Homo sapiens: one gene and its partner. The protein of the gene in region 1 purifies or fractionates together with the protein of each later gene. This does not show direct contact. Each region holds a gene or a part of one and is shown in the gene's direction. Other genes may lie near its edges.

Evidence for each region. Proteins that work in one complex are often made in the same cells at the same time.
Region 2: the proteins of SEPTIN7 (region 1) and SURF4 fractionate together in Homo sapiens (co-fractionation; one large-scale study listed by BioGRID). This does not show direct contact.

What each region holds. Positions count from the first base shown.
Region 1 is NC_000007.14:35,806,621-35,811,989, forward strand, and holds part of SEPTIN7 (septin-7), read left to right. Parts: intron 1-5,369.
Region 2 is NC_000009.12:133,363,505-133,366,060, reverse strand, and holds part of SURF4 (surfeit locus protein 4), read left to right. Parts: intron 1-32; coding exon 33-76; intron 77-1,034; coding exon 1,035-1,221; intron 1,222-2,301; coding exon 2,302-2,556. UniProt on the Homo sapiens protein: Endoplasmic reticulum cargo receptor that mediates the export of lipoproteins by recruiting cargos into COPII vesicles to facilitate their secretion.

The sequences.
Region 1 (5,369 bases):
GCCTTTATTCTAATCAAGATAGAGAATACTTCCACCATCCCAGAGTTTCTTGTGCCCTGTTGGAGTTCTCCTTCTACTGCCCCAGGTAACCACTGATAAGATTTCTAATAGCCATGAATTAGTTTTTTTGTTTTTGTTAGTTGACTCATTTAAAGTGTTTTTTCTGGGTAACTTTCTAAAGTCTCCCCATCCCTATAACTTCTTTATTATATAAGATTTCAAATAAAATGAACGTCATGGTGTTTTTCAAAGAATACAGATTCTCATAGTGTTTCACACTTTGATAAATGATAGGCCTGGGATGGGGCCCTGAAAATCTTTGGCTCTGATTGACTGTTTTCAGGAAAATCAAAACTATTTTCCACCAGTTTTGCTGTGCTTTATAAAATATATTTGAAATATTCCTGCAGTGGTAATTTGAAACTTTTGTAAACTTTGTTCATTGATTTAACAAGTATTTGACTCCAGGAAGTATCAGACACTTTGACACCATAGCAATCAAGAAAGCTGTGGTCATGGATGTTATGATGTTTCTGTTTTCATTTCTGAAATTGCTTTTTTAAAACTTTTTTTTTTTTTTTGAAACGGAGTTTCGCTCTTGTTGCCCAGGCTGGAGTGCAATGGCACAGTCTCAGCCACCGCAGCCTCCGCCTCCCCGGTTCAAGTGATTCTCCTGCCTCAGCCTCCCGAGTAGCTGGGATTACAGGCATGTGCCACCATGCCCGGCTGAATTTTTTTTTTTTTTTTTTTTTTTTTTTTTAGATGGAGTCTCTCTGTGTCGCCCAGGCTGGAGTGCAGTGGCGCGATCTCGGCTCGCTGTAAGAAGGTCTGCCTCCCGGGTTCACACCATTCTCCTGCCTCAGCCTCCTGAATAGCTGGGACTACAGGCGCCCGCCACCGCGCCCGGCTAATTTTTGTATTTTTAGTAGAGACGGGGTTTCACTGTGTTAGCCAGGATGGTCTCAATCTGCTGACCTCATGATCCGCCCGTCTTGGCCTCCCAAAGTGCTGGGATTACAGGCGTGAGCCACTGTGCCCTGCCAATTTTTGTATTTTTAGTAGAGACAGGGTTTCTCCACATTGGTCAGGCTGGTCTCGAACTCTCGACCTCAGGTGATCCACCTGCCTTGGCCTCCCAAAGTGATGGGATTACAGGTGTGAGCCACCGCACCTGGTTGCTTTTTAAAAATTTTATTGGGAGGTTTTTTGTTGTTGTTTTGTTTTTTTGAGACGGAGTCTTGCTCTGTCACCCAGGCTAGTGGCATGATCGTGGCTCACTGCAACCTCTGCCTCCTGGGTTCAAGTGATTCTCCTTCCTCAGCCTCCTAAGTAGCTGGGATTACAGGCACATGCCACCACGCCTAGCTAATTTTTGTATTTTTAGTAGAGACGGGGTTTCACCATGTTGGTCAGGCTGGTCTCTCCTGACCTCGTGATCTGCCTGCCTTGGCTTCCTAAAGTGCTGGGATTACAGGTGCAAGCCACCGCACCCAGCCTGGTTTTTTTTGTTGTTGTTTTTTTTAATAGGTAATATAATCACTTGGTTCAAAATTCAAAAGGTTAAACAGAGAGATACAGTGAAATCTCCTTCTTACTTCTACCCCCAAGTCACCCAGTTTCCTAGTCCTCGGCATCCTGTGTTAACAGTTTCTTGTATGTTCTTCCAAAGGTGTTTTTTGCATATGGAAGTTAAAAACATTTATCCTTCCTGCCCCCACCCTTGGTAGCATTAAGACACATTATTTCCCACATGTTTTTTTCCAATGAGTGTAATTTGGGTTATTCCGTATCAGTACATAAAGAGCATTCTTATTCTTTTATACAGCTGCATAACCGTTACATGATATCTCAGTCTGTTTGTGCTGCTCCAACAAAATACCTGAGACTGGGTAATTTATAAGGAACAGAAATCTATTTCTTACCATTCTGGAAGCTAGGAAGTCTAAGATCACAGTGCCAGCAGGTTTGGCGTCTCTGCTTCCAAGATGGCACCTTAAATGCTACTTCCTTTGGAGGGAACAAATGCTGTGCCCTAACATAGTAGAAGGAGCAAAAGGGTCAAGCACCTCCCTTGCACCTCTTTTATAAGGTCATTAATCCTATTAATACCATTACTAGTGATTAAGTATCAACATACAAATTTTGGGAGAACACATTAAGACCATAGCATATGGATAGATCATGATATGGGATATATTTTGATTTGTTTAACATGTCTGCCTCTGATAGACATTAATTTCCAGTGTTTTGCTATTACCAACTTTGACATGGTGAGTCACTTGGGATATTGATCTCTTCACATTTGTTAGTGTATCTAACAAATACACTAACTGTTAGTTTTTGAACTCTTTGAAGCAGGAGACTACCACTTAAAAGTTGTAGTATTGACATTGTCATTATATCAATAATGTATTGATGTTATAGTATCATAACATTGATGTTAAGTATTGGTAATATTGCTGTTAAGTCATTAGTTTAGAACTTCAACAATCAAGTTCATTCACTTAACAAATACACGTTTTGTACTTGCTGTGTGCTGGCCACTGGGGAAACTGAATTAAATGCTGTGGCAGTTGAAATAGAGGCATGGTGATTAAGAGTTTTCGGATCTAGAGTCAGACTTGGATTCATATCTCAGTTCTAAAGCTTAACTGAACCTTTGGCAAATAACAGAACTTCTATTTTTCCTTCTCTGTAATGTGGGAATCATAAGGTTATTGGAGAAGTAAATGAGATAGTACATGACAAATCCTTAGCATGATGCCTGGCATATAATAAACACTGAGATGTTAGCTTAAAAAAAGTTATCAGACTATATTGCAGTTGACTTTATGTTCTGCCTCCACTGTGCTTAAAGTCTAGGCCTGTGTTTTGTTCACCTTTGTGTCCCCAACCCATAACTGGCTTGCATTTAGTAAAAAATTTGTGATACGATATAAAGGTATGCAGAGCATACAGTGAAAGTTCAAAGCAGGATACCTTTTCCATGCTGGAGAAGGTGAATCTTTGAAAGTCGGTAGGAGTGATTAGGTAAAGGAGGTGAAGGAGTAAAGATAATTATTCTAGACTGAGAAATTATGTTAGTATCAGGTTATGAGGTTAGAAGAGGTAAGTAGGCAACTGGTATTGCTGTGCTGAGAATTTAAAAATCTTTATTGAAGGCTTTAAAAGAAAAGTGGTAATCGTAAGAATCGTGATGATAATTCTCTCTGTTGAGAGTTGACAGGGCACCAGGTTGGAGCCATTAAATTGAAGGAGTTTAATGTAGCAGTTTAGGACTAAAAATTGGTCAGAAGCAGGGCAATGGGAAAGGACATGAGGGGGATGGTTGTAAGGTGTTAGGGAAGATGTGGGTGGTGAGTAATGAGTCCAGAATATTTGAGCTTTCTGACTTGAGTGAATGGGTAGATGAATAGATGCTATTTCTTGAAATAGGTAATTTGAAACATGAAATTGAGAGGCCTGGGGGACATCCAAGTGGACATGTCTTGTAGGGTCTCAATACTAGGAAGACATCTAGGATAGAAAATAAACATTTTCTGATAATTGTAAATGTATTCATTTGTGCTTTGAATTTTTATGTTTAGTAAGTGAGTTTGTGAACAGAGTTGAAGGAAATTACAATAAAGTGATTTGTGTGAAACTTCGTTGTCCTTCAAATATAGACTGAGGTCTCCAGTTTCTGGGGTAGTACTAAAATGTTTCCTTTTTTTTTTTTTTTGAGATGGAGTCTTGCTCTGTCACCCAGGCTATAGTGCAGTGGCGCGATCTCAGCTCATTGCCAGCTCCGCCTCCCACGTTAACGCCATTCTTCTGCCTCAGCCTCCCGAGTAGCTGGGACTACAGGCGCCCGCCACCACACCTGGCTAATTTTTTGTGTTTTTAGTAGAGCCTGGGTTTCACCGTGTTAGCCAGGATGGTCTCAATCTCCTGACCTCATGATCCGCCCGCCTTGGCCTCCCAAAGTGCTGGGATTACAGGCGTGAGCCACCGCGCCCAGCCAGATGTTTACTTATTTAAAATTTCAGCTGGTACGTTTCACAGCAGCAGTTGCTTCAGACTCAGGGTTATGCTAGTGTTTCTTTGCAGGAGTGACATTTTGTATCCTTATATATTGTTATTGTCCATTCAGATTGTAATGAGTTAATGAGTTTTTTTTTTTTTGAGACAGAGGCTCGCTCTGTCGCCCAGGCTGGAGTGCAGTGGTGAGACAGAGGCTCACTGCAACCTCCACCTCCCTGGTTCAAGCAATTCCTCTGCCTCAGCCTCCCGAGTAGCTGGGATTACAGGCACATGCCACCACGCCTGGCTAATTTTTTTGTATTTTTAGTAGAGACGGGGTTTCACCATGTTGGCCAGACTGGTATCGAACTCCTGACCTGAGGCAATCTGCCCACCTTGGCCTCCCAAAGTGCTGGGATTACAGGCATGAGCCACTGTGCCCAGCCGAGTTCTTTCTTTTGAGGAAGATTTTGGTATGTATTGTCCTTCAGTTTTAGAGAATACAGTAAATATTTTGAATGAGATCATTATTTGTGTAAGAGGAGGCAAAATTCTCATAATAATTTTCTTAGTTCTTTCCATTTATATATTTTTTTAAAAAATAAGGAGAGTACCACCTTATTTATTACATGTAACATTTTGGGGTATGAGGCGATCTATACAAGGAAAAATTTTCCAGAAACTAATGTTCTCTCAAATATTAACATTTTAAAGTATTTCTAATAATAAAAATTTAGTATATAAACTTGGTTTCTTTTATGATTAACTTAAACAAATTAGCCACAAGGGGAAAAATAAATTATTTCAATCATTGTAAGTTAATTTGTATTCTTTCTAAATATATAGGTTGTAATTAGGGGTGTATTAGTGGTCCTAAACCCTGGACCAGCATTGGAAACATTTCTAATGTTTAACACAGTTGGAGACTCTATAACTCACTAGGTGGGAAGTGGGGCTTAGAAGCTTGCTTATTAAGAGGCGGGCATGGTGGCAGTGGTTCTCATCGGTAAACCCAGCATTTTGGGAGGTCGAGGCGGGCTGATCACTTGAGGTCAGGAGTTCGAGACCAGTCTGGCCAACATGGTGAAACCCTGTTTCTACTAAAAATACAAAAATTAAGGCTGGGCGCGGTGGCTCATGCCTGTAATCCCAGCACTTCGGGAGGCCGAGGCGGGTGGATCATGAGGTCAGGAGTTCAAGACCAGCCTGGCCAAGAAGGTGAAACCCTGTCTCTACTAAAAATACAAAAATTAGCTTCCTGCAGTGGCAGGTGCCTATAATCCCAGCTACTCGGGAGGCTGAGGCAGGAGAATCGCTTGAACGTTTCAAAAATAAACAAAAAACAAACAAAAAAATTAGCCAGACAT
Region 2 (2,556 bases), on another chromosome or scaffold:
GACTCAAGTATCTCTCTCTTCTTTCCCCTCAGACGATTGCCTACAGCATTTTATGGGACTTGAAGTTTTTGATGAGGTATGTGCATTCTGGTTGGTTTTAGTATACGCTCCTTCTACAGGTTGAGCATTGCAAATCCAAAGTCTGAAATGCTCCAAAATGGGAAAAATCTTGGGCACCAACATGACGCTCAAAGGAAGTGCTCATTGGAGCATTTCAGGTTTTGGATTTTCAGATTTGGGATGCTCAGCCAATAAGTATATAATGCAAATATACCAAAATCTGAAACACTTTGGGTCCTAAGCATTTCAGGTTAGGGATACTCAATCTGTATTTCTAAACTCAGTTAACTATTGGTTTGAGTAGACTTCTCTGGGTCTAAACCAAGCTTGTCCAGCCTGTGGTCCACGGGGTGAACATGGCCCAACACAAACTCAAAAACTTTCTTAAAACATTGAGAGTTTTTTTTGTGATTTTTAAGTTTTATTTTTTAGCTCATCACCTATCATTAGCATTAGTGTATTTTATGTGTGGCCAAGACAGTTCTTCCAGGGTAGCCCAGGGAAGCCAAAAGATTGGACCCCCCTGTCTAAATTGTGCCTCTTAGAAACAGGTTCTGAAGAGGATGTTGCAGAGCCCCTAGAATAGTAGAGACTGAAGCCGTCTCTTCTGACCCTTATTTCACGGGTGTGGGGACTCCGGGTCTGAGTGGAGGACAGACCTGACCACGGGGACCCAGCTGGTCAACACTGAAGCTGTGACTAGGACTCGGTTGTGTGTGTGTTCAGGTAGCCTGTCACTGTCGAGTTGTAAAGATACCTCTGTCTCCTGAGCTATGTAAGGTTTTACATGGGTGTAACTCGAGTCTGAGGTCCTGTGCGCATGCCTGCCTGGTCCTGCTTGGCAGATCACTGGGTTTGGAGAAAGGGAAGTAAGGGCCTTCTTATACTGGCAGCAAGGTCTCCCTGCACCTGGTCTCACAGACAGGCCAGATCCTGGTGAGGCTTAGCTTCCAGCCCACATATCTGTTCCTCAGGAACCTGGCCCTGGGAGGAGGCCTGTTGCTGCTCCTAGCAGAATCCCGTTCTGAAGGGAAGAGCATGTTTGCGGGCGTCCCCACCATGCGTGAGAGCTCCCCCAAACAGTACATGCAGCTCGGAGGCAGGGTCTTGCTGGTTCTGATGTTCATGACCCTCCTTCACTTTGACGCCAGCTTCTTTTCTGTAAGTATTCCTACTTGCCTGAACCGGTCTGGTTTCCTGTGAATGCTGTCCCTCCCCCACCCCCTCCCTGCTCACCCCTCCCTGGTTGGGTATTAACCACAGCCTGGGGGAGCTGCTGAAATGGAGCAAACTTTTTTTTTTTTTTTTTTGAGACGGAGTCTCGCTCTGTCCCCCAGGCTGGAGTGCAGTGCGTGATCTCGGCTCACCGCAAGTTCCGCCTCCCGGGTTCACGCCATTCTCCTGCCTCAGCCTCCCGAGCAGCTGGGACTACAGGCGCCTGCCAACACGCCTGGCTAATTTTTTGTATTTTTAGTAGAGACAGGGTTTCACCGTGTTAGCCAGGATGGTCTCGATCTCCTGACCCCTCGTGATCTGCCTGTCTCAGCCTCCCAAATTGCTGGGATTACAGGCGTGAGCCACCGTGCTCGGCGGAGCAAACTTTTTGATCCCATTAAAACAGACCAAAACATCGTCAATCTCTTGTGTGTCAAGCCTTCTTTCCAGCAAATGAAGGCCAGAACCTCTGACCTTGGTGGAGTGTGCTTGGCCCTTGGTTGGCCAAGGCTCTCCACCCGGGCTCCCCTTACTCTTCTTTCTTTCCTCACTGTTCGTATCTTTCTCAAGTAATTCCTGTGTGTCAGGTGTCAGGGGCAGGCCTCCAGGAGCTTCCAGAGCACACCTCCGGAGCTGACTGAGAGCCCTGGCCGGGTAGTGTCCAGGAAGAGCTCCTGGCGCCATGGAGAGAGGAGAGAGGATGTTTCTGGCCTGGATGGCTGGGTGGGCCAAGAAGCACTTGGGAATTTAGTTATGGATTAGAGATTCATCTTGGTAAATCACAGCCTGTTACTAGTTGGGAACTTCAGTCTTCCCCAAACCTTCCACATTTCAAAGCTGGTGCTTTATTGCCTCCTGCCTCCCTTTGGCTTTTATCTCCCTACTTGCACCAGCAGCCGTCTCAGCAGTAGCTACATCAGCCTGATGGATAGAGACTTCATGACGTGCAGCAGCTGGAACTTTTGTTTATAAAGCATCTCTTTTCCTCACATTTATTTTGAATTTCTTACGTTTCAACCTATGCAGATTGTCCAGAACATCGTGGGCACAGCTCTGATGATTTTAGTGGCCATTGGTTTTAAAACCAAGCTGGCTGCTTTGACTCTTGTTGTGTGGCTCTTTGCCATCAACGTATATTTCAACGCCTTCTGGACCATTCCAGTCTACAAGCCCATGCATGACTTCCTGAAATACGACTTCTTCCAGACCATGTCGGTGATTGGGGGCTTGCTCCTGGTGGTGGCCCTGGGCCCTGGGGGTGTCTCCATGGATGAGAAGAAG